Linked DNA regions of Homo sapiens. The protein of the gene in region 1 interacts with the protein of each later gene in a pairwise test. Each region holds a gene or a part of one and is shown in the gene's direction. Other genes may lie near its edges.

What was found.
Region 2: the proteins of WNK1 (region 1) and WWTR1 interact in a two-hybrid assay, tested with the Homo sapiens proteins (one large-scale study listed by IntAct).
Region 3: the proteins of WNK1 (region 1) and FHOD1 interact in a two-hybrid assay, tested with the Homo sapiens proteins (one large-scale study listed by IntAct).
Region 4: the proteins of WNK1 (region 1) and ZNF839 interact in a two-hybrid assay, tested with the Homo sapiens proteins (one large-scale study listed by IntAct).
Region 5: the proteins of WNK1 (region 1) and ITPRID2 interact in a two-hybrid assay, tested with the Homo sapiens proteins (one large-scale study listed by IntAct).
Region 6: the proteins of WNK1 (region 1) and HIVEP2 interact in a two-hybrid assay, tested with the Homo sapiens proteins (one large-scale study listed by IntAct).
Region 7: the proteins of WNK1 (region 1) and RIPOR2 interact in a two-hybrid assay, tested with the Homo sapiens proteins (one large-scale study listed by IntAct).

The regions. Positions count from the first base shown.
Region 1 is NC_000012.12:906,079-909,578, forward strand, and holds part of WNK1 (serine/threonine-protein kinase WNK1), read left to right. Parts: intron 1-1,768; coding exon 1,769-1,956; intron 1,957-2,396; coding exon 2,397-2,714; 3' UTR 2,715-3,500. UniProt on the Homo sapiens protein: Serine/threonine-protein kinase component of the WNK1-SPAK/OSR1 kinase cascade, which acts as a key regulator of blood pressure and regulatory volume increase by promoting ion influx.
Region 2 is NC_000003.12:149,651,526-149,655,025, reverse strand, and holds part of WWTR1 (WW domain-containing transcription regulator protein 1), read left to right. Parts: intron 1-3,052; exon of another isoform or gene 3,053-3,500. UniProt on the Homo sapiens protein: Transcriptional coactivator which acts as a downstream regulatory target in the Hippo signaling pathway that plays a pivotal role in organ size control and tumor suppression by restricting proliferation and promoting apoptosis.
Region 3 is NC_000016.10:67,240,982-67,244,481, reverse strand, and holds part of FHOD1 (FH1/FH2 domain-containing protein 1), read left to right. Parts: intron 1-3,500. UniProt on the Homo sapiens protein: Required for the assembly of F-actin structures, such as stress fibers. Depends on the Rho-ROCK cascade for its activity. Contributes to the coordination of microtubules with actin fibers and plays a role in cell elongation.
Region 4 is NC_000014.9:102,322,746-102,326,245, forward strand, and holds part of ZNF839 (zinc finger protein 839), read left to right. Parts: exon of another isoform or gene 1-19; coding exon of another isoform or gene 20-97; intron 98-2,773; exon of another isoform or gene 2,774-2,936; coding exon of another isoform or gene 2,937-2,960; intron 2,961-3,239; coding exon 3,240-3,500.
Region 5 is NC_000002.12:181,898,230-181,901,729, forward strand, and holds part of ITPRID2 (protein ITPRID2), read left to right. Parts: intron 1-650; coding exon 651-690; intron 691-784; coding exon 785-883; intron 884-2,466; coding exon 2,467-2,675; intron 2,676-3,500.
Region 6 is NC_000006.12:142,767,177-142,770,676, reverse strand, and holds part of HIVEP2 (transcription factor HIVEP2), read left to right. Parts: coding exon 1-1,125; intron 1,126-2,140; coding exon 2,141-2,295; intron 2,296-3,500.
Region 7 is NC_000006.12:24,845,461-24,848,960, reverse strand, and holds part of RIPOR2 (rho family-interacting cell polarization regulator 2), read left to right. Parts: intron 1-806; coding exon 807-936; intron 937-1,269; coding exon of another isoform or gene 1,270-1,419; intron 1,420-3,500. UniProt on the Homo sapiens protein: Acts as an inhibitor of the small GTPase RHOA and plays several roles in the regulation of myoblast and hair cell differentiation, lymphocyte T proliferation and neutrophil polarization.

The DNA.
Region 1 (3,500 bases):
GGTGTGCTGCTGTGATCTGGTGCTGCTTTGACCTTGAAAGCAGGATAACGCATGCACTTACTTACCCCCGCATTACTTGGGTACCTTAAGGACTAGTGGTTCACAACTTACTTTAGGAGCTTTTATTTATTCTGTAACACGTGAGATCTGGTAAGACAGTGGGGGGTAAGGAAAACAGACAAGACCATGACTCTTCTTTCCCTCTTCCCCAAAACGTGCCTCTTGGAATAATCTTCAGTGTGCCCTCCAGCAGAGCCGAAATCAGGCAGGCATAGACTCCCTCCTCTCTCATCAAACCGCAGAAATAGAGTTCCTTCATCATAACCGCAAAGCTTCCTCCTCCCCTTTGCACCCTGCCTCAGCTGCATTTTCTTGTCGCTTCTACATGGGAGTGCTTGCTGTTCTGGGAAGAGTGGGGAGAAGCGGTGGGAATCCTTGAGCCAATTGAAACTGAGGTCATCTTCAGGAAAACCATGTCTTCCTGAAGTTGAAAGATTCAGGCACACCATACAGTCCTTTCCTCATGAATAATCTTGTTCTTTACTCATGGGAAATTGGGAGAGGTTAACCCCTCCCAAGTTTATGTTTGCAAATTCATGTTTATGGGTCCAGGTGAAAAACTTTTCTGAACACAGCATGCTACTTCTCTTATTACCTCTCTCTATTTAAAGAATGGCTAGGCTGAGCATGGTGGCTCACACCTGTAATCCCAGCACTTTGGGAGGCTGACATGGCAGGATTGCCTGAGCCCAGCAGTTCATGACTAAGCAACATATGGAGATTCTGTCTATATAAAAAAGTAAAAAATTAACTGGGTGTGGAAGTGCATACGTCTAGTCCCAAGCTACTTGGGAGGCTGAGGCAGGAGGAGTTGGAGGCTGCAGTGAGACGTGATTGTGCCGCTGTATCCAGCCTGGGTGACAGAAAAAGAAGAGACCCTTCCTTTAAAAAAAAAAAAAAGCCGGGCGTGGTGGCTCACGTCTGTAATCCCAGCACTTTGGGAGGCCAAGGCGGGCGGATCACCTGAGGTCAGGAGTTCTTGAGACCAGCCTGGCCAACACGGCAAAACCCTGTCTCTACTAAAATACAAAAATTAACTGGGCATGGTGGTGCACACCTACAATCCCAGCTACTCTGGAGGCTGAGACAGGAGAATCGCTTGAACCCAGGAGGCAGGGGTTGCAGTTAGGTAGGATCGTACCACTGCACTCCAGCCTGAGTAATAGAGTGAGACTCCATCTCAAAAAAAAAAAAAAAGGCTAAAGAATGTGGCAGTGTCCAATGGTTTGGAAACCCACCTTCTCCTTATCCTTAGCCAAGCATCTTTTCCTACTCCTACTTTAACCGTGCCCAATGCACAAGAAAACCTCTTTTTCCCTGCATTCTGCAAAATTCCAGAGCAACTAGCCTTGCTGATTGTATCACACCTCCATCAGCAACGTGATGCTGGGAATAGCGTACTGGCGAGCAGTTCCAATACTCTTAGGTGCTTTGTGAATGGACTGAAAGAGGCCCCTGCCTGTGTACCTACCGTCATCCTGAGTTGTTCAGCCTTAGCAGCAGCTACTGAAGAGAAACTGTTTTCATCACCCTATTATACCAAAACAAATGGCTAAACAAAACCTTGGAATCTTCCCTCTTGCATGGCTTCCCAGTTCATCCTCTTCTCATTCTGTGGCTTGCCATTCATCATCCCGTGAAGTTTTCCCTCTTCCTGAAATTGTAACCTAGGCTTCTTTTAATGCTCGTATTCTGTTGCTTATAATAGGAACCAGCAGCACAAACACTGTTGGGGCAACAGTGAACAGCCAAGCCGCCCAAGCTCAGCCTCCTGCCATGACGTCCAGCAGGAAGGGCACATTCACAGATGACTTGCACAAGTTGGTAGACAATTGGGCCCGAGATGCCATGAATCTCTCAGGCAGGAGAGGAAGCAAAGGGCACATGAATTACGAGGTAAGTCTCTCTTTTGCCGCAGAGAATCCGTAACACACATCTGAGTCAAGGTGATAGAAACAACTAAGCTGCTGCTTAACGTCTTACGCCACGACCTTCTTCAATTTTAATACTTTAGAAAAACAAGGCAAAAATCCCCCAGGTACCCTTTTATTTTTCCTTCCCTGAATTCCTAACCTCTTGTTGGTCAGCTCAACTTTTTCTTCTTCGTTTTTCCTTCGTCATCCTCAACTACACACACACAGACACACACGCACATGACATCCCTCCCTCTCATGAGGATTATTTTCACCCTTACTTGGTAAATATAAAGAGCCAATAAATACTACAGAAGACTGTTCTGCTGTATCTTACAGGATTATACTAGAAGTATATGTTAGCGCCACACATTTTATACCATGGCCCACACCAGACTTGACACGTGGTGGTTTTGTTTTCAGGGCCCTGGAATGGCAAGGAAGTTCTCTGCACCTGGGCAACTGTGCATCTCCATGACCTCGAACCTGGGTGGCTCTGCCCCCATCTCTGCAGCATCAGCTACCTCTCTAGGTCACTTCACCAAGTCTATGTGCCCCCCACAGCAGTATGGCTTTCCAGCTACCCCATTTGGCGCTCAATGGAGTGGGACGGGTGGCCCAGCACCACAGCCACTTGGCCAGTTCCAACCTGTGGGAACTGCCTCCTTGCAGAATTTCAACATCAGCAATTTGCAGAAATCCATCAGCAACCCCCCAGGCTCCAACCTGCGGACCACTTAGACCTAGAGACATTAACTGAATAGATCTGGGGGCAGGAGATGGAATGCTGAGGGGGTGGGTGGGGGTGGGAAGTAGCCTATATACTAACTACTAGTGCTGCATTTAACTGGTTATTTCTTGCCAGAGGGGAATGTTTTTAATACTGCATTGAGCCCTCAGAATGGAGAGTCTCCCCCGCTCCAGTTATTGGAATGGGAGAGGAAGGAAAGAACAGCTTTTTTGTCAAGGGGCAGCTTCAGACCATGCTTTCCTGTTTATCTATACTCAGTAATGAGGATGAGGGCTAGGAAAGTCTTGTTCATAAGGAAGCTGGAGAACTCAATGTAAAATCAAACCCATCTGTAATTTCGAGTGGGTGGAGCTCTTGCTTTTGGTACATGCCCTGAATCCCTCACTCCCTCAAGAATCCGAACCACAGGACAAAAACCACCTACTGGGCTCTCTCCTACCCTGCCCTCCTCCCTTTTTTTTACCCCTCTCTTTTTTATTTTTTCTTTGCTCTTTAGAACCCAGTGAAAAATACCAGGGTACTGGGGTGCAACTCTTTCTTATGATAGGTCATTAGTGCTTTAAGCAAAAGATATTAGCAGCTTTGACTGCAGCATTAGCAATTAGGAAAAAAAAAAAATTAAGTTCCCTGCGGACATGTAACTTTGCCATCAGTTTTGATGTGGAAACACTGTGATATATAAAATGTTGTTGGACAACAGTAGTTTTAAGAGTAAAATATGAAACGTTTAAAAAGTTCCAAAAAAAGCTAGCTCTGTCCTTTACTTATTGAGACAC
Region 2 (3,500 bases), on another chromosome or scaffold:
GCCTCCCGAGTAGCTGGGACTACAGGCACCCGCCACCAAGCCCGGCTACTTTTTTGTATTTTTTTTAGTAGAGACGGGGTTTCAACATGTTAGCCAGGATGGTCTCTATCTCCTGACCTCGTGATCTGCCCGCCTCGGCCTCCCAAAGTGCTGGAATTACAGGTGTGAGCCACCACGCCTGGCCCCAGCCCTACATGATTTCTAAACTGTGTTTATGAATATATACACACATACGTATGGTATATGATCAGTATAACTGTGATTATTAAAAATATGAAATAGGAGCTAGGCTTGCCTAATATCTGAGGAAAACTAGACGAAAAAGACCCTGAAACAAAAGCAAAACAAAAAAATTCCTTTATACATTGTGTTTTGAATGATTGGAGTAGCTCAGAACTGCCTGTGAACAAGGGCAAAAGTGGAAGTTAGCCTTGGATTTAGAGAAAGTTGCTGTGATCTCTCTGCCCATCCCCCCAACCACAACCACTCTCCAATCCAAAGCAGAGTGCATCTTCATTTCACTTTGGGTAGTCAATGAAAATGACAGCTGAAAAAAATGTGTAAGTAGTAGGCTGGCCTGCTCTGATGCTATCCCTGGAAGTATTTTGGCCAAGTGACTAAGAGAGGTTAAGAATTTGTCAGTGACTATTGTCTTTAAGGATAAGCAATCTGCCAAGAGTTCTCTGAATTTCTTGTAGAGTTTTGTTTAAAGTTGGAATTAGGTAAATGTCATACACTTTGTTACACAGCCTCAAAAGGCAGTGTATTTCAGTGGATTAAGTAGAAGCTTGAAAAATGATGGTGACTCACTTGGAGTTACTTTTCATTATGTCTGTTTATTACTTTACTTGCCATCTATGAAATAGGGCTGAGGCTAGCAGATACATTTTTTTTTTTAATTTTTTTATTTTTGGCTGGGGTAGAGATGGGGTTTCACTATGTTGCCTAGGCTAGTCTCAAACTCCTGTACTCAAGTGATTCTCCTGCCTTGGCCTCCCAAAGTGCTTGGATTACAGGCATGAGCTACCATGCCCAGCCAGAAGAAGAATCTTTTTCTTGACTCTGTTGGGAGTTGAGAGCTTTATAAGTTGGAAATCAAAGGATTTTAGAATGACAAGGGTCAATTTTGTTTAGTTTAGTTTTTGACTAGAAAATTGAGGCCACGGAAGGGTGATGATAGGAATTTGGGAAAGTCATGTGGTTATTTAATGGTGGACCCTGGACTGGACCTCTAATCTGTTGCTGTCTACTTAGGCAACAGTTTTCCTTTTTCCCCACCGACACCTTTCCCCCATGTCACTTCCTTAGCTAAACAATGAACTTAATGGGAAACAGAGCCTGGACATCTAAGAAGCTTTAAAAAAGCCTTTTGTCATTTTCTCAGGTAAGATTATTCCTAGGTATATGATGTAATCACTTTCTGCAACCTCCTGAAGGCACCTTTCCTGAGCATTCACAGCTTTCCTGTGGTGTTCAGGTGTCCTGTGGTATTCAGATATTCCTTTAGAGTAACAATGACTAGGGCATGGTGGTGCCCACCTGCAGCCACTACCACCCCCACCCCATCTCTAAATAAAAAGTTTTTAAAAATTAGAGTAACAGTGAAGCAGATTGAATGTTAAAACACCTAGCCTCTGAAAACCACTGTGTTCATTCATTATTCCTGCTGTCCTCTCAATCTCATGAATCAGGCTGGGGTGTTGGGCAACCTGGCACACTGACTGAATACTGATCACATTAAATTTTTAAAAGGTCTCTGATTATAAATAGAATACATGCTTTCTATACATAAACCAGAAAATGGGGAATTATAAAGAAGAAAGTTATCTAGCTTCAGTAGAATTTCCCATCTTTACTCTTTCGCAAACATTCTTGTAAAAATCTTTCATTTGAGTAACGTGATTTTATAAGAAAAAAGATTTTATCCTCCTCTTAAATACAATTCAGACTATAACATTTGGCTGCCACGTCTCATTTTTAGTGACAATTTTAGTGTTTTGCCTTTTCTCAAATGTGTGACAGAAAATTATTTTTGTCCAAGTGATCCATGCACTTGGTAACAAATCCAATATACAGGAGGACATTTGTTGAAAAACAATGGTTTCCTTCACCTCCTCAAGGCTCACAGAGGGCAACTTTTAATTTTTTTCAACTGTACCCATATTTAATTCTTAGATTGTTACCTTCTTAAGCTTAAGTAATGTGCTTTTACCACCATGTTTTGATTTATCAACTTTTAGCACCTGATATGAAAGTGAGAATGTAGCTCTTTAAGCTAGTTTTCTTTTTTCTCTCCCAGGTTTGATGTTTATAATATTTTAAATTTGTCTGTTAGGTCACCTTTTTTAAATAATCATCTTTTTTTTTTTTTTTTTTTTTTTTTTTTTTTTTTTTTTTTTTTTTTTGAGATGGGGTCTGTCTCTGTCACCCAGGCTAGAGTGCAGTGGGAATCATAGCTCACTGAAGCCTCAAATTCCTGGGCTCAAGTGATCCTCCCACCTCAGCTTCCTGAGTAACTACGACTATAGGTTTGCACCACCATATTTGGCTAATTTATTTAACTTTTTTGTAGAGACAGGGTTTCCTATGCTGCCCAGGCTGGTCTCAAACTCCTGGCCTCAAGCAATCCTCCCACCGGCTTCCTAAAGCACTAGGATTACAGGTGTGAGCCACCACACCTGGCTTTTTCAACTTTGGATAGTATTTCTTGATTCCTTATGCTGTATGTCAGTAATGTTTGGATTGCTACCAGTTCTACTGTTCACTTTTTGACAATGTTGCTTTCCACATTGCCAAAGCCCTGAACCCATAACCTGTATTTGTGCTTTGCCCCAAAGTTGACCATCTTATTCGTATATGATTCTTAAAGTTGAAAATCCATAAGGCCGGGCGCAGTGGCTCATGCCTGTAATCCCAGCACTTTGGGAGGCCGAGGCGGGCGGATCACGAGGTCAGGAGATGGAGATCATCCTGGCTAACACCGTGAAACCCCGTCTCTACTAAAAAATACAAAAAAAAAAAAAAAAAAAAAAATTAGCCGGGCGTGGCAGCGGGCGCCTGTAGTCCTACTCAGGAGGCTGAGGCAGGAGAATGGTGTGAACCCCGGAGGCGGAGCTTGCAGTGAGCCGAGATCGCGCCACTGCACTCCAGCCTGGGCAACAGAGCCAGACTCCATCTCAAAAAAAAAAAAAAAAAAGAAAATCCATAGGCAACATTTACATGACTACAATTCTGTGAAATGATTCATTGCCTTGTGTGTCAGGATTGGATTTTAGACTTGCACTGTGGGTCTGGTTTTAGGATTCCTGGGCCAATCAAAGGATGAGATATCTAGCCCCAAAGTCAAATGGGATTTTTTGTTTTCTCACTCTTCATCAGTTGTTTAAATTTGTGTTACCTTTTAGTTTTTTCATATTTGGACCATGACTTTCTTAAATTTTTTCCCTAGTATTTCTGATTGCCTTTTAATGTGTTCATGCATTATTTGCCATTATTATGAT
Region 3 (3,500 bases), on another chromosome or scaffold:
GCCCTGGTTGGTGGAAGGGAGCTTGACAGTGTCTTGGGCCGGGCCTAGTGTCCCTGGGGGAACTCAGGAGTGCCTTCCTCCCCTCCAAAATATTCCCCCAGCCCAGACCTGCCTTTGCCAGAGGGGAGAATGTGTCCCTCTGGCCTTGCATCTCATCTCCTAATCTAGAGCCTCCCAGTTCTACCCTCCCTTCTGGGAAGTGTCTCAGGAGCCTCTCCGATACCCAAGGCCCTACCACACCTGGTATAGCACTGACTTCTCCCTGAGCTCCGGGTAGGGGGATCTGGGGTGCTTCTCTGACCCTGCTGCAAAGGCCAGGAAAGCCCTCTCCTCCTGACAGTGGGGATAGCCCTAGAAATCTGGTCATTACTAGCAACTTTGTTTCCCTAGCTGTGGCTAAAAATCAGAGTAGGACAGGGGTGGCACTGTCCTGGAATGTTTCCTGACCCTACCCCAACCCACTCTAGCCTTTTTACATCTCAGGAGCCTTTGGGAGACTGTAGAAAACTGAGGTGTGGGCATGAGTCCTGGTCTCCTCCTAGCCTCCCCTGGGGCTGGACTATCCAATCTGCTGGTCATTCTGGAACAGAGTGGCTGAGCTGCAGACTGGTGAGGGACCCTGACACCTAGGTCCTGGCAGAGGTAGATACTATTATCCTAACTTGCATGGGGTGCGTGTGTCTATTGGTGTTCCCTTACTGGAACTGGGAGGACCAGTATGGGGTATTTGCAGAGTCCAGAAAACTAAGAGGATGTCTTCAGCTCTTGGCAATCCTTCTGGCCCCAGCCCTCACTCCACTTCCCCTCTAGGGTTCCTTGGAGCATTTCCAGGGCCCATCCGCCCAAGATTTGGTCAATTAGCCCTGGCTCCTGGCTGTGCACCCTGGGGCAATGCGCTGATTTTCTGATTCTTGGTTTCCCTATCTGTAAAAGGATTATTGGTAGAATCAAATTAAATAGGCGGCTCAGGCTGGGCATGGTGGCTCATGCCTGTAATCTCAGCACTTTGGGAAGCCAAGGCCAGAGGATTGCTTGAGGCCAGGAGTTCAAGAACAGTGTGGGTGATATAGCGAGACCCTATTTCTATTAAAAAAAAAAAGAAAAGAAAAAAAAGAGGCAGTCCGGTGCCTGGCACAGAGGAAGCATAAGATAACAAAAGTGGATTTCCCTCCCCAAGGCCCATCCTTGTCATCTCATTCAGGAAGTCACACTCTAGTTGGAGACCTGCGATAACAGGAAAGGAGGGTCTTCAGAACACAGGGTCCTGTGTTTATAGGAAAGGAGACAAAAGAGGCAGTTAACCAATTATTTTCTAAAATGAAAGCCCTTCAGCCTATAATCCTGCCTCTTTTCCATCTTCCCTGTACCCTGCTCTGGTATGTTCAGTCTTACCTGATTACACTGTTATTAAAAATATTGGGTAAGACAGTCTAAAGAAACAAGCGGGAAAAATGTATATTTATAAAATATATAATAGATATATGTAATAGATGTCTAGATATATATAATAGATACATAGCTATATATATAAATTATCAATATCTATAGACATCTATATATTATAGATCTATATCTATATATTATACATAGGTAGATAGATAGCTAGAAAGAGAGAGAGAAGTAGATGCCATGGTCCCCTGGGCTTGACCCTGCATATAAAACCATACATAACCAGTTGGTTTTGGGCTGCCAGAAAAGCCTGAGCCTGGAAAGTCAAGAGTATAGTGGGCTGGAGGCCAATGTGAGAAGCTGAGCCTGGGAAGAATGGGGGAAAGACTCCACCCCAAGACAGAGACCAGAGAAGTGAGGAAGACAAGAGCCAAGAAGGTGTCAGGGAAGTGGGCCCATACTACGTGCTGAGCTTAAGCCCCGTCAGCAAGGACCAGGGTTTGGGCTTATTCAGGCCTGGCCCAGCCCCAGGGTGTGAGAAACAAGGCCCAGAGGTTTGGCTCTCAGAAGGGTGACCCCAGGAAGGGGCCGGGGTGTGAGGGACATGTGCCATCCTGCTAGCAGGAAGTCTCCTGCTCTTTGCTGCTTGCCTGACTCTAGCCTACCACCCCACACTTCCACCCAGGACAGACAGCTGGGGGTGGGGAGACACTGTCCTGGAAGGCACTGGACTACCTGTTTCCCTGGACCTCCTCCCCAGAAATGGGGCCCTGGCAGGATTGGACAGGTGAAGTGGCTGAGGAGGCTAGAGAATGTGGACCATTGGCCGGGCACAGTGGCTCACACCTACAATCCCAGCACTTTGAGAGGCAGAGGCAAGTGGATCACTTGAGGTCAGGAGTTCAAGACCAGCCTGGATGACATGCTGAAACCCTGTCTCTACTAAAAATACAAAAATTAGCCAGGCATGGTGATGCACGCCTGTAACCTTAGCTACTCAGGAGGCTGAGGTAGGAGAATTGCTTGAACCCAGGAGGCAGAGGTTGCAGTGAGCCAAGACTGTGCCACTACACTCCAACTTGGGAGACAGAGCAAGACTCCATATCAAAAAAAAAAAGAAGGTGGACTATTTAACCTTCAGGACCCTTCCCCAAATGGATGCAGGTGTCCTGGAAGGAGAGGGACATTCTCTGCTCTCTTGGGATTACAGCATGCAAGGAGGCAGGACAGCGTGGTGGGCCTGACCTTTCTGGGTCTGTGCTGCTTCAGCCTGTGTTGGCCAGTGCATACCCAACCTTATACCTGGGTGTGTAAGCAGTTACCAGGTGTAACATGTTTTCCCTTCCCGTTTATCTTTATAGCACTCTGCCCCTCCCCTTTCTTAGCACTGTGAAAGTTGTGATTCCACATTCATTTGTGAGCTTTTTCTGACTCGTCTGTCTGTCTTCCCGTCTGCCCCACTGGGCTGGAAGGAAGGGAAGGCAGAGGCAGTGTCTAATTCCTCCTAGGTCCTCTGCATCTGAAACCAGCCTGGTCATGAATGTTCAAAGAATGAGCTGTTCTATATGTGTGTGATTCGAGGGGATCCCTGACGGGGGTGGCTCTGGGGTAGGTGTGTTCTTCTAGGGTCCCAGAATCTTCCAGGCCAAGGGAGGGAGATGCGGCTGTGCCTGAATGGGGGTGGGGTGGTAGGCTGCTGAGTCACTGTGTGGGAAGAGATCAGGAGGAATGTGGGTTGCCCTCAGCTGAGCTGGCCCTGGACAAGATACCCCAGCCCTCAGGCCTTGCTGCCCCTTCTCAGGCCTGTTCCCAGTAGGCCCTGGAGAAGATGACTCTGCTCCCAGGGAGGGGAAAGTGGCCAGGCCTGCCCAAGGCACCCTGGGGAGGGCAGGCAGCCAGGCAGGAAGTGGGACAGAGAACAGGCTGGAGTGTTTGTCCTATGTCCCAGGTCCCAGGCGGGGGTGGGCGGGGGGGGGGGTCATCCAAGGGCCCCACAGGCTAAACTGTGGGGAAGGAGCCAGGTCAGGCTCTGAGGCAGGCGCAAGGGTTGCTAAACAGAGGTAGGGGTTGAGGCAGGAGCTGGACTCCCTTTTTCTCCAGGGGACCAAGGC
Region 4 (3,500 bases), on another chromosome or scaffold:
GTAGAGACAGGGTCCCGCTATGTTACCCAGGCTGGCCCTGAACTCCTGGCCTCAAGCAGTCCTCCCGCCTCAGCATCCCAAAGCACTGCGATTACAGGTGTGACTGGCAGTAAAATGAAAGAGATGGGGTTCTTGAAGGATATGCGCAGTCAATCTCGTTGTCATTTGTTTCACAAGTAGCCCAGGAGTCGGGGACTCCCAGGGCTATGGTGCCACCTCTCTACAATTCTTCATACAAAGTGTTGGCTGACCTCTGCTATTTGTACTAGTATAACAGACAGACGAGAGACACACTCCAGCTTGATCTCAGTGAGGATCTTTATTCTGTCCTGTGTGACATTTTTGTTGATGCTCCACTGTTTGAGGGTCACACCAGAAGGTTGAGTCCAAAGAGGGCCAGTTGGTCGTCCCAAATAAGTGATTCTCAACCGAGGGCAGTTTTGCCCCACAGGGGGCACTTGGCAATGTCTTCATTGTCAGGACTCGGGATCACTACTGGCATCTAGTGGGTAGAGGCAGAGATGCTGCTGGCCATCCTCCAGCCACCCATGTCAAAGGATTATGTTCTGAAATGTTGGTTGGGAAATCGTGCTCTGGATGATGAGGTTTGCCTCTTTTTCTCCCTGGAGGAAAGTGCTCATTATTTCTGCTCTGTGAGGGCGGGAGCCTTGTTTCTTTTGCTTCCCCGTCCTTCTCCCCTAAGCTGTAAGACAGCTGTTTCCCTGACACCTGTAACAGTGTTTCTGGCACGCGGTCAGTGCTCAATAAATATTTGTGGGGTGTTATTGAAGGTAGTTCTCCCCTTTGGTAGGTGTTTTGCTATTATAGACAGTGCTGCCCTGAACTTCGTAGAACAGAACATCTTTGTGGCCACCTGCGTGTTTTTTTTATAGAATCCAGGAAATGGAATTACTGGGTCAAAAAGCACATGTATTTGAAATTTTGTTAGATATATTTGTAAAAAGTTATTGAAGATACTCAGCCCTACGCCTAGGTACATGCCCCTGGAGAAAGTCACACATGTATACACATACATCGTGAAGATTCAGAGCAGAACTTAGGAACAGAAGGTTGGAAACCACCTGTCCATCAATAGGAGACTGGTGTACTCATACTGCAGAGAAAATGAACCCGTGACACCTACCCATGTTAATGTGGATAAAATTCACGAAGCAAAATGAAGTAAAGAAACCCAGAAAAGCCCTTTCAAGTTGCAGGAGATGATATCATTTATATAAAGTTTAAAAACATTTCAGAACTGAACTATATATTTTTAGAAATATCTGCATATGCCACATAAATTTTTAAAATCATAAGAATGCTAAACAGCACATTCAGGACAGGGTGAAGAAACAGGCATGCAGGTTGTGCAGTAGGAAGCTGGGTAACATTGTTCCTTATGGCTTTGTTGTCGCTTCCAGAATTTCATTAAAAACTTTTTAAAAAACATGGGCCCACATTATGAATTACGTCTGCTTTTAGAGTACTAAAAACTCCAAGCAAAAACACATGGGTAACGCCGGGCACGGTGGTTCATGCCTGTAATCTCAGCACTTTGGGAGGCTGAGGCGGACAGATCATGAGGTCAGGAGTTTGAGACCACCCTGACCAACATGGTGAAACCCCGTCTCTACTAAAAATACAAAAATTAGCCAGGTGTGGTGGCAAGCGCCTGTAATCAGGGCTACTCAGGAGGCTGAGGCAGGAGAATTGCTTGAACCTGAGAGGCAGAGGTTGCACTGAGCTGAGATAGCGCCACTGCATTCCAGCCTGGACCACAGAGCGAGACTTCATCTTAAAAAAAAATTAGCTGGTCATGGTGGCACACACCTGTGATCCCAGCTATTCAGTAGGCTGAGGCAGGAGAATCATTTGAACCTGGGAAGTGGAGGTTGTGGTGGCACTCCAGCCTGGGCGACAGAACGAGACTCCATCTCAAAAAAACAAACAAACAAAAAGCCAGCCGGGTGTGGTGAGGCAGGTGGATCGCCAGAGGTCAGGATTTCGAGACCAGCCTGAATGGTGAAACCCTGTCTCTACTAAAAATACAAAAATTAGCCGGGGCGTGGTGGTACGTGCCTGTAATCCCAGATACTTGGGAGACTGAGGCAGGAAAATTGCTTGAACTCGGGAGGCGGAGGTCGCAGTGAGCCAAGATAGTGTCGCTCCACTCCAGCCTGGGCGACAGAGCAAGGGTCCGTCTCAAAAGAAAAAGAAAAACCTCACATGGGTAAAACTGTTAGGAAGGCTCTTATCTCTTCACTGGTCATGAAATCAACTTAGTGGATTATGACTAGTATTTTTTAAAAAGTGATGTAGAATAGGGCTGGGCGTGGTGTCTCACGCTGGAAATCCCAGCACTTCGGGAGGCCAAGGCAGGTGGATCAATCACTTGACGTCAGGAATTTGAGACCAGCCTGGCCAACATGGTGAAACCCGTCTCTACCAAAAAATACAAAAATTAGCTGGGTGTGGTGGCAGCTACTCCGGAGGCTGAGATGAGAGAATCGCTGAAACTGGGAGGCAGAGGTTACAGTGAACTGAGATCGCACCACTGCACTCTAGCCTGGGTGACAGAGTGAGACCCTAATCTCAGAAAAAAAAAAAAAAAATGATGTAGAATAGATACAATCAGCGGGCATTTATATAGGGATGGTAAGTAGTTCCATCAACTTTATTTTATTTATGTATGCAGATATTTATATACACGTGTACTAGGTCATAATGTAAAATGTATCATTGTGGTCTCTGTTTTTGTTTTTGTTTTTTTCAGATGGAGTCTCACTCTGTTGCCCAGGCTGGAGTGCAGTGGTGCGATCTCAGCTTACTGCAACCTCCTCCCGGGTTCAAGCGATTCTCATGCCTCAGCCTCCTGAGTAGCTGGGACTACAGGAGTGCATCACCACGCCCAGCTCATTTTTGTATTTTTAGTAGAGATGGGGTTTCACCATGTTGGCCAGGTTGGTCTCGAACTCCTGACCTCAAGTAATCGGCCTGCCTTGGCCTCCCAAAGTGCTGGGATTACAAGTGTGAGCCACCAAGCCCAGCTTATATCACTGTGGTCTCTGGTCAGAAAGGTCTGGAAAATACCACCTTAGTACAAACACATTACATCAACTTTTATATGTAAGATGTAATTTAGAAAAAATGTCAATAATGGTTTTATGACGAGACTGAAATTGCAGACATGTTCATAAGCACAATGCTTCTTTTCTCTTTCTTGTCTTTCTGTACGTAAGCAACTAGAAGCCATTTGTGTCAAGGTAACGTCTGGAGAAACAAAAGGTCAGGAAAGGCCAATGCTCCTACCGACCACAATCCAGCCCCAAACTGCAAGAAAGAGCCAGCTGCCCCGGGGGAATTCCTGCCTGGTGGGGCTCCATATCGCCAGCCCTCAGCTGCTCAGGGTACAGCCGCTTGTGAGAACCGAGCCACAGTCCTGCTTCCTAAGTGACTTATGCCAACCTCCTGCTCAGGGGTTTGTACAGAGACCACTGCCA
Region 5 (3,500 bases), on another chromosome or scaffold:
TGTGTGCTGAAATAGATGTGTTTATAATTAATTTTATTCTTTGTATTTGTCTATAAATTTAACTTTAAACATTAACACTTACCTGTTTAGAACTTTAAGCTAAAGTTCTATCATAAAGTTGAAAGGCAATTTTTAAAAGAAAGTTTATATTGAAATAAGTAGAAATTTTCATGTTATATGTGTGAAAAATCAGTTATAACCTTAAAAAAAATTCACATTAGAAACTGACATATACTATTGCCACACTTAATGTTAAATCATGTTTTCCTCTTAAGATATTATTCATTAATAGCTTTTAAATTTAATAATTAGTACCACATATATGGTACATATCTTCCTCATTACTTATTTCTAACCTGTTAAAGAAATTTAACTGGTTCCCTATACGTTTTTTTATTTTAAGCACTCAAGTGAGAGTAGTTAGTTTCATGTTGCCACAACACAAAAACACCCTTCAAAAGCTCCTGGCCCTGTTCTTATCTATCTGTATATCACTTTTAATAATGCAGATTTAATGGACCAAGATAAGTGTTTAATATATTTGGCATTTAATTCTAATATTGTAGGTAATTAGATTTCTTGATAATTGTATCATAGTAGTTATAGTCCTACTAACAATTGTGCTCTACGTTTATTGTTTTTACCTGTAGCCAACCACCTCCATGAAAGTGATGCTCAAATTGAAAACTGGTATGTAGCTGTTTTGTTCTATTTCTTTTAAAAAATGAAGACCTTTAATGAAAATAAAGTTATAAAGTTTTATATAATCTGATTTTGTTCGTAGCAATAATATCTTGGCCAAAGAGAGAAGATTACAGTTTCATCAGAAAGGGAGAAGTATGAATTCCACTGGATCTGGGAAAAGTAGTGGGACAGTTTCAAGGTAACTTATTCTGAAATTGTGTTGGAATTACATTGTGCTATAGATGACCTACTCTTATCATTTTTTCAATCTTGGATTTGACCTTGATCATATGAAATCAGAAAGAACACAAAAAGAGCGTTTCCTGTACCAGCACAACTGATAGGAGCTTTTTGTTTTGTTTTGTTTTGTTTTGTTTTACTTTGAGATTAAATAAAATGCAATAAATAGGCTTATACTGCTGCTGGAACCCATAAATGAGTATTTTGAGCCCTCTCAACAGCCTGAAAGAGGAACTCCATAGCGGAGTAACTTGTAGTTGTAGAGAACCAAAATTCATTGTTAAGGACTTGAGTTAACTCTGACACAAAAATCAGAATAAATTTTTCTAAGTTACAGCTTGATATTTAAGCATACTTTTTTTCAACACATTAAACCAAAGATCTTTCAAATATATAGTATAGCCAGGCCCAGTGGCTGACACCGGTAATCCCAGTGCTTTGGAGTGTCAAAGTGGGTGGATTACTTGAGCTTAGGAATTCAAGACCAGCCTGAGCAATATGGGGAAACGGCGAAACCCTGTCTTTACAAAAAATGCAAAAATTAGCTGGGTATGGTGGGATCCACCTGTAGTCACAACCACTTGGAAGGCTGAAGTGGTACCCAGGAGGTTGAGGCTGCAGTGAGCTATAATTGTGCCACTCCATTTCAACTTGGCTGACAGAGTGAGACGCTGTCTCAAAAAAGCCAAACAGAAAAATACCCTTGCCCCTCTCCCGCCCGCACATATAGTATATTAAAATACATCAGTGCATGTGCCTATGGAATCCAGTTTAAACTGTTATCCAAATTATAATATTAGAATCTGAGCATTTTGTCTGAAACAAATTGAAATGTCTCTCTGTTGAAGTTCCATCTCTAACTTTCCTGTTTTCTTCAGTGAGTCTTAGAAAGCTTGGATTATCACTGGTATGAGAGAGAAGGGATACTAAATATTTAATTCCCAATAGGATTAGAGTAGTTACCTTTGTGTAACCCACACTCTCTGTACCTTACTCCTCCTACTTCCTGAGTGGAAGTGGTTGGAGAGAAGTTGAAAGTAAGCTCCTCCCTCGCTTCTCTGAAATCAGCTTGTTATCTTTATTGTTCCTCCTAGGACAATTGCCACTCCTAGGACAAGGATAACAGAAAAGCTCAAATTTCACAAAATGTCCCTCAGTTCCTTTTAATTTCTGCTTTAATCTGTTCATTCCTTATTCTTCATCATCTGTCTTCTACTTGTTTTAGCTGCTTTACAGGGAATCTCTTAAAATGACAAAACAAATAAGGTGAGGAATCACGTAGGGAATCTCTGACTGTGTTCGTTGGGGTTAGCTCTTTTCTGCAACTCTAGCAACTTGAGACAATGAACCCTTTATAAGGGCTATTTATTCCCCAGTACACATGTGTAAACATGGTAAAATAAATAATGGTTTCCAGAGCAGAAGCTGAGAAAAAAGATTTTATCACAGGAAATCAGTAATATGTATTCATTTATAATGTGGTGTGGACTATCAATTTATTTTATATTTTCATGTTTCCTTTTTTGCCCCCTTTTTTTGTAGTGTTTCAGAATTGTTGGAACTTTATGAGGAAGATCCTGAAGAAATTCTTTATAATCTTGGATTTGGACGTGATGAACCAGATATTGCTTCTAAAATTCCTTCCAGATTTTTTAATTCATCATCCTTTGCCAAAGGGATAGATATTAAAGTATTTTTGAGTGCTCAGATGCAACGGATGGAAGTAGAAAACCCAAATTATGCTTTAACAAGTAAGATTTTTAAGTGTTAGGCATATTATTTTCTTAAATTATAGCATCTACAGCAAGATGGTCTTATTTTAAAGCCTTAATTTTCAGGAATAGCACTGGAAAGTAAAGAGATTGATTAACGCAAAAGCCATTTTTACATGTTAAAATTAAGCTATTTTATTACTCCATTTATAGTGGTTAATTTGCCTATTTTTCCCCTCCTCCCCAATTCCTGACTTAAGTGCTACCATAACTTATTTGCAGAACCTTATTGTTGTCTACAGATTGCTTTTATTCAAGAAGAAAAGAAGTAGGAGAGGAGCCTTGTTAATCTTAAATGAAGTCAGTCTGTTTCAGGAACTAGTCTGGCTAATTTGATCAGTTTCACTCATATCTTTGCTTGTTTTCTTTCTGTTAGCCAAAGATTCCAAAAATAGGATTCCAATCCTGCATTGTTCATGGATCAGTTTTAAGAGATCAATAAATCCCTCACCCTGCAAATTAGGTATAAAATATATGCTTACATGCATTTTCTTAGGAGAATTTTGAAAGAGTCTTAATGGAGTTCAAGACTTCAGAATAGAATCACAACTGTAGATTCAATAGCTAGTTCTTTCTGTTTTATTCAATGTTGCCATTATGCTTTGTGCTTATTTCTGATTTTTTAAAAATACAAATTCTAGTGCTTAGAGTAAAAATCTTGCTCCTTCCCACCCAGTGAATGTAGAGAAGGTTTAAGTGTTAGATGAGGAAAAAATAGGGTTTTATAATCTTTGTGATCTAAGTGTAGTTTTTGGAATTCTAAACAATAATATGCATTTAATATATGTGTATGTATATATATAA
Region 6 (3,500 bases), on another chromosome or scaffold:
CAGATACTTGGGCAGAATAGCCCTGCCATTGTCATATGCAAAGTCGATGAGAATATGACCCAAAGGACACTGGTCACCAACGCAGCCATGCAAGGGATAGGATTCAACATTGCCCAGGTGCTGGGGCAGCATGCGGGCTTGGAGAAGTACCCCATTTGGAAAGCACCTCAGACTTTGCCCCTCGGCTTAGAATCCTCCATCCCCTTGTGTTTACCTTCCACCTCTGACAGCGTGGCCACCCTGGGAGGTAGCAAGCGAATGCTTTCTCCAGCCAGTAGCTTGGAGCTCTTCATGGAAACCAAGCAGCAGAAAAGGGTCAAAGAAGAAAAGATGTACGGACAGATTGTGGAGGAGCTTAGTGCTGTGGAGCTGACCAACTCAGACATCAAAAAGGACCTCTCCCGCCCCCAGAAACCCCAGCTGGTTCGACAAGGATGTGCTTCTGAGCCAAAAGATGGCTTGCAGTCAGGGTCATCTTCCTTCTCCTCGCTGTCGCCCTCCTCATCTCAAGACTATCCTTCTGTTAGCCCGTCTTCCAGGGAGCCATTCCTGCCCAGCAAGGAGATGCTTTCCGGTTCCCGGGCACCACTTCCGGGGCAGAAGTCCAGTGGGCCTTCTGAAAGCAAAGAATCTTCAGATGAATTAGATATCGATGAGACGGCATCGGACATGAGCATGAGCCCACAGAGTTCTTCATTACCAGCAGGAGATGGTCAGCTGGAAGAGGAAGGGAAGGGCCACAAGCGGCCTGTTGGCATGCTGGTCCGCATGGCCTCTGCCCCCAGCGGGAACGTGGCAGACTCAACTCTTCTTCTCACGGACATGGCAGATTTCCAGCAGATTCTTCAGTTCCCCAGTCTGCGGACAACAACTACTGTGAGTTGGTGCTTCTTGAATTATACAAAACCCAATTATGTGCAACAGGCCACCTTCAAATCCTCGGTTTATGCTTCATGGTGCATTAGTTCCTGTAATCCAAACCCATCAGGATTGAACACCAAGACCACGCTGGCTCTTCTGAGGTCCAAGCAAAAAATCACTGCAGAAATTTATACTCTGGCTGCTATGCATAGGCCTGGAACCGGCAAGCTTACATCATCAAGTGCTTGGAAGCAGTTTACTCAGGTAACAAATACTGTTTTAGGAAGAACTTTGTATTGTGGATTTGATTGCTGAGCAGACTACATAGTGAAGGATATAAGGCCTAAAAAAAAAATACAAGTAAAATGAAGGTCAGTGTGGGGGCGTTTTCAGAAAGTCTGGCCTTACTCAGGAGTGGAAGAAGCCACTGACTGCACTTGGTTCTGAGGTCTCAGGCATGGTCCATTTTCAGAAGAAAAAGCCTACATTTATGCTTTTAAAATTTAAAAATTTGGGTGCCATGAAATCCTACCACTGGGATTAATTCCCATGGGTTATTTTCCTTCTGACCTTTGTGAGTGACCTAGCAGGTCTAATTTTCTCTGGATGTGAGGAATTCAGGGAATTGTGAAGTGGGCCATAGAGCAGGGAATGGAGGCTGAAAGGAAAGACGAAGAAGGAGGACCGAGCTTTGCAAATGCTGCAGGGCTTACTCTCATTGACGAGACATCTGTCTCCTTCAAAACTTATTTTTCCAAGTTGCTGGCTGGTTTATTCCTACAAGAACCATCAATGCCTTCCATGTAAAATTATAAAAATATTAAGGGGAATTTTGAAATTTCTGCTAAATTAATAAGGAGGCAAATAGAGGATTTAAAAATATGTTTTCACTTTTATCAGTTACCATTTTCCCTTCAATAATTTTTGAGACTACTTCCTTAATTAATATAGATTGTTTTCATTGCTACTTCAAAACATAGAATGTGTCTTTTAAGTATTAGCATTGCACAGAGTGCTGAGTGTATATGTGTATCTATATATTTTTATATATAATATATGTACTTATTATATATAGCTGTAACAGAATGTTGAATTTATTCAGTGGAAACTGTCATTCTTATCTGATTTTATCCCTAGTGGTCCTTATTTTATATAACTAGTTCCTGGCCTTTTAGTACAGAATTTAGGCTCATTTTCAGAGATGATGGAAGAGTGGGACATAGGGGCTCCTGTGTCTTGGAGAAAGCATGTGAAATGATTCTCTCTTCTTGTCTTACAGATGAAACCTGATGCGTCCTTTTTATTTGGCAGCAAACTAGAAAGGAAACTAGTGGGAAATATCTTAAAGGAAAGAGGGAAAGGAGATATTCATGGAGATAAAGATATTGGATCCAAACAAACTGAGCCAATCCGAATTAAAATATTTGAAGGAGGGTAAGGAAACAAAGTGCAAATGTAAAATGTGCAGTTATAGGTCAGAGTAAATGGTCCAGAATGTCTGCATGGAAAAGGTACTGTCTAATCTGGTTGAAAGCTGAAAGTAAATTCCTTTTCTATTCACAGTTCTGAACTCTGGCTGGTAATAGATCATAAGTTCATGCCCTTGCCTTTGGGATTTGCTTTGCAAGAAAATGTCCCTAATGGATATCATTCAAGCCTCTTCCTTAAATTTTCACCCCTCTAATTTATTATGAAATCTACTAAATTGGTGGACACTTGATGTCATCTAAGTTTGTTCATTCTTTGATCATTTTATAGGTATTTGTTTTATTGACGGACATATTTTTATTGTATGCTTACAAAAATCAGATCATGCACAATCATGTATAATCTTCAGAACTAGTTAATTTGTTTGTTTGTTTTTCTTATTATCTAAACTAGAGGCTTTAATGGGATTTCACCAGTTCCATCAATATCCTTTTCTGTCCCAGGATCCAAGTCAGGGTACCACATTGCACTCAGTTGTCTTGCCTTTTCAGTCTTCTCTGGTGTATGACACTTTCTCTGTATTTAGGAATTTCTTTTCAAATCTTGAGTCCTGAGTCATAGAAACTCAAGTAATAAGGTTCAAAGACTTTGTTATTTGTATAGTTAAGAAAAATTACACATATGTAATGTCTTGTTTTAGATTTTGATAGAAATGTATCTTTCATCCAGTCACATAGAAGGAAAAGCCTACACTTATGCTTCTAAAATTTAAAAATTTTGAAGCGTGCTAACCACATTTTGGAGATTATGATGTAATTAGCCTTATCTCTACAACAAATCTATTATTTACATATCTTCATGGGCATGACTTTATTCCAATTATATTTGGAGGAAATAATGTTACTTGTTTGACTATAAAATGTGGAATGTTCAGTGAGATGAAATATCCATTTCTCACCTAGCATTACCGGTTTGGAGATGGATTATTCTATTTGGTTGTCCCTTAGGTTTTGCCCTCTTTGGATATCTAGCATTTTCACCACTAAAACCACAATTGTATGTAGTCATGAAGCTTGTCTTGATATTTTTTTGACATCCCCCATCTTTTAACACAAACGAGAGAAATATAGATTTTATCTCTCCTCAGAGACTGAGAGGTCCCTGTGACTGAATCAACCCTCTCACATTCAGCAGCCTTCATAGCAGTGTAC
Region 7 (3,500 bases), on another chromosome or scaffold:
TGCACTCCAGCCTGGGCAACAAGAGCAAAACTCCATCTCCAAAAAAACAAAAACCACTAGTAGTTCACAACATTTAATGTAATGCCCCCGGTATATTGCCAAGTAAATATGACATGTTGAGTATTCATGCTCAGGGTCTCATTTACAATATGGAAAGCCAGGTGTAGAAGCAGCAAAGACACTCTTGCTTTGTCATCATCAGCATGCTTTGCTCAGCCCTTCCCTCCCCACAATCTGCAGTCATTGATGTCTCACATGCAAGATCATTCTTCTTGCTGGATGAATCGGGTGCCATGATGTTAAGTGGCATCATTGTGAACAGACTGTTATTCTCTTCCCACACAAGAGGCTCTGTGTCAACTGAAATGAATGGGATTCTATTTTTGAGTGTTTTCTTTAGAATGGAACAATAGTCTGTCGATGTCTTATACCATTAAGGTATCTAGCCCCGCAAAGTTCAGATAATTTTTATAGACTTTTCAACATCTTGTTTTGTCGAAGCAAGCATTCATAAATTTGTGTTTCTAATGTTAATGAGGAACGGGTGTATCTAAGTGTATAGCTAAATTGTGCTTAGAGCTGTGATAATATTCTGGGGTCCCTTGGGTGAGTCTAGACTCAGTTTTCTGCTCCACTTTTCTTTTATCCAGGTTTATTTTCTGCAAAGCAGTTTAGCTAAAACCAGCCCAGTTCTGAACCTCTGGTTGAGTTTACCTTTATATAATGAGGTACTCTCTTAGCCTGTGGTCTGTTGATGATAGGTGATTTTGCCAAATGTGCATACCTGGGGACCTGTTGTTTTGCAGTCCATTTGACGTGGAGGACATGACCGCATCCTCAGGCGCTGGGAACAAGGCAGCAGCCCTTCAGAGGAGAATGTCCATGTACAGCCAGGGTACCCCGGAAACGCCCACCTTCAAAGACCACTCCTTCTTTGTAAGTTCAGTGTAATTTCCCGAGTAGAATCAATGCACCTGAGCCAGTGCTTGCACCCAGCATTTGAAATGCTTAAGAGACAGTGCTGGGAGTTAGTAATTCTATCAGAGGTGGTGAGCCTCCTCTGTTTTTCCTCTCTCCTTGCCCACCTTACCTATTGCTGTGATGGTAACATGTAGATTTTTCTGAACATTCTCTAAGATCAGCCTTTTAAAGAAGTGCATATAAATAATAGCCTCCTTGTTTTAATCAAAAATGCTTGCTAAAAAGCTAACAAAATGTAGTAACCTGATTCTTCCCACTAACTCCCCCATCTTGCTTTCACTTCTGAAGAGGTGGCTGCATCCTTCCCCAGACAAGCCCAGGCGGCTGTCTGTCTTGAGTGCCTTGCAAGACACTTTCTTTGCCAAGCTGCACCGCAGCCGCTCCTTCAGTGACCTGCCCTCCCTCAGGCCGAGTCCCAAGGCCGTGCTAGAGCTCTATGTGAGTGTGGCCTGCCCGGGTATGGAGTGCTTGACTTCTGGGGCTTGTGGCATGTGTGACTTAGCATGTCTCTTGTTTTATCTTCTCTGTCTTGCTCACTGGGTATGGTTACAGCTGTACTGTCCTTGGGGCGGGACACTTGGTCGTGCATGTAACTTTGATAGAGACGCAGTTTGTCCTTCTCTTCTAATGATCCCTGTTTTTGTGCTGTGATTTTTCTCCATTGTGGCAAAGATATCCATGGTAACAAGATTTTAAACAAGTTTAAGCCTTTCAAAAACTGGCATTCGGCCCAGCATGGTGGCTCACGCCTGTAATCCCAGCACTTTGGGAGGCTGAGGTGGGTGGATCGCTTGAGCTCAGGCATTCAAGACCAGCCTGGCCAACATGGTCAAACCCTGCCTCTACTAAAAAATACAAAAATTAGCCAGGAATGGAGGCATGTGCATGTAGTCCCAGCTACTTGGGAGGCTGAGGTGAGAGGATCACTTGAACCCAGGAGGCAGAGGTTGCAGTTAGCCAAGATGGTGCCATTGCACTCCAGCCTGGGCAGCAGCAAACTCCATCTCAAAAACAAACAAACAAAAAATTGGCATTCAAGGAACTCAAAAGGATTTCAATGAATTTTACTAGAGCTACTTCTATTTGAAAGGTTCTCAGTCTTAGTTTATTATAATGTTTGTTAATTCTATAACACTTCGATAAAAAGATATCCTTAATTCACAGTCAGGAATACAATAAGTATTATATATTATACATTATGTCACCAGAGGATACACACACACATGCATGCACACACACATACATGGAACATCCTGCTCTTCACAGATGTATAAAACGAAGCTTTGAGTGTCAACAGAGGAAAGGATTAAAAGTCTTTGGGTTCATAATAATAATAATTGCATCGTTTTCATTGAATTAAAAAATGCAGGTGAAGGCTGAACATGGTAGCTCACACCTATAATCCCAGCACCTTGTGAGGCCAAGGCAGGTGGATTGCTTGAGCCCAGGAGTTCAAGACCAGCCTGGGCAACAAAGTGAGACCCCGTCTCTACAAAAAATTTAAAAATTACCCTGTTGTGGTGGTACACACTTGTGGTCCCAACTACCCAGGAGACTGAAGCAGGAGATCACTGAAGCCCAGGAGGTTGAGGCTGCAGTGAGTTATGATTGCACCACTGCAGTCCAGTCTGGACAACAGAGCAAGACCTTGTCTCAAAAAAAAAAAAAAAAAAAAAAAGGCAGGTGAAAAGGACCAGGCTAAACTCTGGTGGAGTTTTCAGGGAAAATGGGAAGATTGTATGGGGGAAATACACATGAAAACATGAACCAAAACACAAAGAGCTAACACAGCTATACACGCAACCGTTAACATAACATGTATATTCATGCTCATATGTTCATGTGCTACAGGTTGGGGGTTGTGGGCGAGAGTTGGTAGAGGTTTCACGTCATAATTTAAATAAGAACAAGGTTAGAAAACAACTGGATGGCTTTCCTGATAAAACCTTTTAGATAAATGCAAAGGTCCTCAGAGCGGCTGTTCCCATCTGGCCACAGCCCACCACAAGCCCATCCCACGTTTTCACTCTCTATCCTCTGCTGGGGCCCCTTGGAGCTTCTCAGTGTCCTCCAAATGCACCACCTCCTTTCAGGAGCTCATGTCTTTGCATGTTGTTCCTTCTAGAACGCACTTCCTCCGGTGCCTGCCCCCTACTTCACCATCTTCCACACTGAGCTCCAGGATTGGCTCTTTCACAGGCAGCAGCCACTCCCTCATTGGGGCCCTTCCCTCATGATGTCATCCCTCAGTTATAGCGTGTACACCATTGTACTGTTGTGTGCTTGTTGTTAGACTTGTCCCCTTGGTAGACTGCAAGTCCCCTTGGGCAGGGCATCTCAATTTATTCTCACTCAATATTTGCCACTTAAGTAGGTGGAAATTGAGCTTGAGTCTTGGAGTCTCAAGACAAATGGCTGGGAAGGACTTTGGAATTTGAATAAGAATCCTGACTACCCAATCTCCCTGCCATACCCAGTGTCTCCCACCTCCCTCTGTGCTGCCATGAGATGTGTGCACA